Regions from separate parts of the Homo sapiens genome. Here region 2 is linked to region 1. The links come from fine-mapping of genetic effects on gene expression. Tissue or cell type: whole blood. Region 1 holds a variant in brackets; the other region holds the start of a gene. All regions are shown on one strand. Distances are between the middles of the regions.

What was found. PIP is the estimated chance that this variant, and not a neighbour inherited with it, causes the effect.
Region 2: SLC35D1 starts here. The variant in region 1 is fine-mapped to the expression of SLC35D1 in whole blood (TOPMed, PIP 0.94).

Annotation. Positions count from the first base shown.
Region 1 is chr1:66,984,982-66,987,670 of GRCh38, forward strand. MIER1 (MIER1 transcriptional regulator) reads left to right here. Exons shown (of 14, transcript NM_001077700.3): 14 at 1-2,689. It also overlaps a transcript of SLC35D1 not described here. Among named protein-coding and RNA genes, the nearest start is that of MIER1, 61 kb to the left of the region's middle. The variant A/G (reference allele first, on the strand shown) is at 1,166.
Region 2 is chr1:67,053,100-67,055,788 of GRCh38, forward strand. SLC35D1 (solute carrier family 35 member D1) reads right to left here and starts at 1,049. Exons shown (of 12, transcript NM_015139.3): 1 at 712-1,049. The coding sequence starts at 914. RefSeq lists silencers at 464-673, 964-1,153.

The DNA.
Region 1 (2,689 bases):
TGATTTCCTTGAAGCAGTTTGAAAATTTGAATTGAGTCTTAACTTTAGGAAATGAGGTTTCATAATTCTGCCTTTTGCAGATTTTTTTACTTTAAAGCTGTCAGACTCTTTTAAGGGTATTTTAAAAATTAGTAAATTTGAATGAACTAAAGATATATCTCTACCTTCTCATTTGAATATCTTTAGTTCATTCAGATTTACTAATTTTGGTAAATCTGAATGAACTAAAGATGTATCTGTACCTTCTCATTTGATGTATTAATCATAAAATTTCACTACAAGGTAATTTTTGCTTAGTTTGATGGATGAATGGGAAACTCAAGTCCAAATTTCTGCTTAATACCAATTTCTCTGAGTTTCTTGAAATGTCTTTAAAACAGACATTTTTCTCACCAAACAGTTTGAGTATCTTTATTAAGGAAACCCTTACGAATCCTGAAAATTATGCTAGCATGATTTTTTTATATATAGAAGTTTAAAAATAAACCAGGTCAGGTTTGTATATGTAAAATTGTTGACATCAATGATGTCTTTCCATATTCTTATCTGGGCTTAAGAAATACATTCTGTATTTTTCCAGATTCTTTGTAGCCTTTGAAAGATTTTTACAGTACATATGTCTTGACTGAGCTGTCCTTTCTTAATACAAAAGCGTGTATAATTTTCTTAACTTGTACAGTTGGTAAACTTTTATGAGAGGAATTGTTATTCTGAGTCTGTCAGCTTTCATTTTATTTTGCTAAGGTTTTTCTAATGAATTTTTAAGTGTTTGTGTAGTAATTAAGTCATATTTCTTATCCAGGTGGTTAAAGCATTCATAAAGGATTATAAAATTTTTTTTTTTTTTTTTTTTTTTAAATTTCTACTTAAGGGCAAGTAATTTGAGAATTCTGAAATTAAGCATGATGCTTAGATTGCAGTTTGTTTTGCATTTGCTATAATTTTCAAAATTATTTTTGAAGCAAGACAAAAGTTTAATGTCAGCTTAAGTGCTTAAATATATCATGCTGACCAGAATCCTGTTATTTTTATATGCATCATAAAATTTCCCATTTCTGCATTAAATAAACAGAGGAGGGGGGTCAAGTGATACTTAGATATTGGCACACACAAGGAACAACTGTTGGCAGGCAGTATCGATTTTATGAAGAGAAAGTGAAGTTTG[A/G]AAACTTTTCAAACTTTTCTAGTTACAATCCAATTTTTCAGATTTGATAATGCTTTTCCAAAGTGAAAATAAGATACACAATAATCATTGCTCTGTGTGATTACAGATAGGATTATCCATCTGCATAGCCTTGTAAAAGTGCCATTTTATTTTTAGTGCTAAATTCTTGTTAAATAATGTAGTTTTATATAGCTGATAGACCAACCTATATCCAAACTTTTATAAAATATTAATTATTCTTGTTTTTCTCACACAGGCATACTCCAAATGCTTCTTCCAGTTCATTTTTCAGCCATCAGTTCAAGAGCCAATGCCTTTTTAAAATAAAGCTTCTGTGGTCTTGTTTTTAATGGCTCAACTGTCTGATGTAATTGAGTGAAGGTTTGCACTGAGAAATTAGCATTCAGGCCTTACCCCCATGAAGTATTACTGTTAACATATGTTCGGACTGCTTCCCTTCACCAATGTGAACAACTTTTTTTCCCAAACAGTGTTAAAAGCCACTTTGCAACACTTGACTTCATCTTAATGTACATTCACTGTTGTTACATACATATCTAAGTAAATCAAAGTTTTGGGTGGAAGTGTTGAGAAGTATGAGTTTTTTGTTGTTTTTGTTTTACTTAAAACTTTTAATTTATCCAGAATGGCAGTAGCTTTAGCAAGCAGATGGTCACAATCTGTTTTCTAAATCATTTTTTATTAAATGAATCCAAAGTATCCTAGCTCTTTGTCAAAGATGGTCTGTAGAAATGTTTTTAAAGATTAGGGATGCTGTACTTTTTGAATTGTTGCAGTGTTGGAGATGCCATTTTCACCTTTTTAAAAAGATGCATTTTATTTGCAGGTTTGTGAAGTTCTTGCAAACTCTTACTACAGAAATGTTTTAAATACATTCTCAGGCATGTTTGCAAAAATATGGCACATGTATACATTTTAGGAAATGTTACTTTTGTTAATCTTTAAAAAATACACCTAATGAAAGACATTCCACTATTATGCGTAATGCTCAGCTTTTTGTAAAGAAATATTTAATTGTATTTTGTGTTTATACAGGTATTTCACACAATAATTTGTTCTTAATGCAGCCACTATAACTTGATAAGTCATTGCACTATTTAAAAAGTTTTAGTAATATCATGAATTTAATTTGCTTAAGATTTAGTACATTTCAGAACTTTTGAACTTTTGACAAATTGCATTGGAAAAAGAAGTCTGTTAATAGTGATTTAGTCTCCCCGCCTCATTCCCACCCCCAACAAAGCACTATCATTTTCATTTGGAATGGGTATTTTCTGTTTCATGATGTATTTTCAAATAGAGTTCAGGATCTGCAATTCAGTTCAACACAAGTTTGTTGAGCTTTAAAATGTATTTGAAGTAATATTTAAATAGGCATTTAAAATTTCAAATTAGATGTTAAATTTATGCATAGTAATTTTGCACTGTAAAATAATTCCCTTCTCCCATTCCTTGTCTGCCATTCTGAATATGCTTATTAAAATATTTTTTTAAACATATTTG
Region 2 (2,689 bases), 68 kb after region 1:
AACGTCCGCCCCTAAATCAAACAAAAATCTTGGGAGAAAACTCTCTGCCTGTTGGTTGTCAGTCCACCCCGCTGATGTAGCCTCGGGCGGCCGCTTGTCCCATCTTGTCCGAGTCTACAGTTTCAGTCCGCTGCCTGCAAAGGATTTCTCAAGGCAGTGCAGATACAGATCTCTGCAACGATTTCACACACCTTAAAAAAAAAAACAACCAACTTCTGCCTCTGGGTCCCAGTGTTAGCAAGGGAATAATTGTCTGCTGGGTTGAGGATGCGTACGTCCCCAGAGGCTGTCAGCGGGTGCAGGGGACACTGAAGCCCCGGCCCCCTGTCCAGGCTGCGGAGGAGGGAGGCTTCCCTCGCTCTCCTCCCTGATCGACAGGCATAACGGCTCAAAAGTCACCAAGCAAATCACTTTGCTCCATCTCTCTGAAGGGCAGGGTTTTCGGGGCGGTGCGCCCAGGGCATGGCAGGCGAGCCCCAAATGTGCCGGGCCGGCCGGAGCTCCGCGCAGGGAGCGGACCCCTGCCACAGGCCCGCTCGCCAGGCCGGCTCCGCTGCCCGGGCCGCGCGCGTCAGCCGCCCGCCCTCCCCAGCTCCCGCCCAACTTTGTTCGGCTTTAACTTTGGCAGTCAAAGTCCAGGGAGCCGGCGCCGCGCCGCCGCCGCCGCCCGCTCCTCCTCCGCGGCCTGGGCCGCCGCCGCCTCGGCCCTACCTGTAATTGGTGAGCACGCTCTTATTCACCACCACGATCAGGAAGGAGCTCACGCCGTAAAAGCCGGCGGCCAGCAGCTTCAGAAACACGGTCAGCGTTTCGGCCGACGCCATCCCCAGCTCCTCCTCATCTCGGAGTGTGGAGGATTTCGCGGGGGCTTCTCCTTTAACCCGAGCATGCTGACGTCTATGAACTTCCGCCATGGCTGCCGCAGCAGCGGTGGCCTGGCGGCGGGGCCTAGCGGCTCGGGGGCCTGCAGCGGCAGCTCCCAGGGGACTCCAGGAGTTGGGGACCGCAGACTAGGCCAGCTGCGCGCTCGCCGCCTCGACTCCCCGCTTGGCCGCCGCCTGTCCCCGCCCAGGGGCAGGGACGCCGGGGTTCACACCCCTGGAGACTTTGCTCGGGCATTGTGCAACGCGGGGTCAGAGAGTAGGGCCGCGCCGGGCTTAGCCTGGGCAGGGGTTGGAGAGAGCCTGGAGAAGGGGCAGTGGCGACCCCCCTGCCCGAGGCGGATAAGGAGAAGCCAGGGGAACTACATCGAGACACCAGAGCGCCGGGCGACAAACCACAGACTCCGGGTGACAGTCGCCCTGCGCCTGCGCACGAGCACGCGCTGGGTCTCTCCGCGGGGCGCGTACCTGGGGCGTGGGGAGTCTGGTGGCAGAGGGGCTGGAAGGCCGTATTCTCCGGATAACTGCCGCAACTAAGTGCAGACCCTCCTCCCCTCTGTTACAGGTGGCCGGCCAAGTAGTTACAGTACACTGCGTCTAGACTAATTCTGAATGCTCTTTTAGTCTCTCTTGCAGGGGGTAAAAACCCTTCAAAAGTATCAGATGTGGATCAACAGTAAACACTCAACGAAAATTTCATTCCGCAATGCCTCAGGCTTCTTACATTTTCTGAACCCAGAAAACACCAAACAATACTTTTCAGATTGAGAAGTTTCGTTTGTTTGTTTTAAGAAAAATGTTGACATATCCCAAAAAGTAGCAAGATAAGCAGCTTGGGGATTGGGGAAAGCACAAGGTGTTTGGAGCCTAAAAGACTTGATTTCCAATTGTAGGATTCCTAGAAATGACGACCCCCCCCCCCCCCACCAACACACTCACTCCTTATTGTGTGTCTTGGACCAATTAGATGACCTCCCTGAACCTGATCTCTGTGGATGTGTAGCTAGCAAAGAGCTAGTTTTCGGTAAATGGTAGTCATTATTGTATAACAGAAGCAAATCATTATGATCGGTTTAAGCAAAGAAATTACGTATTGAACTTTAATAGATTAGGAAAGAAGAACTTTGAATTATTTTTCTAAGTGCTTGGTCTGTATCTTTTTAAATTTCTTTTTTTTTTTTTTCTTATTTTTATATTTTGGTAAACCAGGTATAGTGGTTCACACCTGTAATACCAGCACTTTGGGAGCAGGTGGAATGCCTGAGCCCGGGAGTTTGAGACCATGCTGGGCAACAAAGTGAGACCCTCTCTCTACAAGAAAATAAAAAAATTAGCCAGATGTGGTGGCGCACGCCTGTGGTCCCAGCTACTCAGGAGGCTGAGGTGGGAGGATGGCTTGAGCCCAGGAGGTCAAGGCTGCAATGAGCTATGATCATACTACTGCACTCCAGCCTGGGCAACAGCACAAGACCATCTTAAAGAAAGAAATAAATTGTGGCAAAATATACAAAGTATAAAATTTATCATTTTAACCCTTTTTGAGTATGCAATTGCATGGCATTAACTGCATTCACATCGTTTTGCAGCCATCATCACTAATCCATCTTTAGAACTTTTTCACCATCCCAAAGTGAAACTCTTTCCCCTTTAAACAATCACTCCCTGTTTCCCTACTTCCTTCCCTCTCTGCTGTTAACCAGTGTTCTACTTTCTGTCTCTGTGAATTTGACTACTCTAGGTACCTCATATAAGTGGAATCATGTAGTATTTGTCCTTTCGTGATGAACTTACTTCATTAACGTAATGTC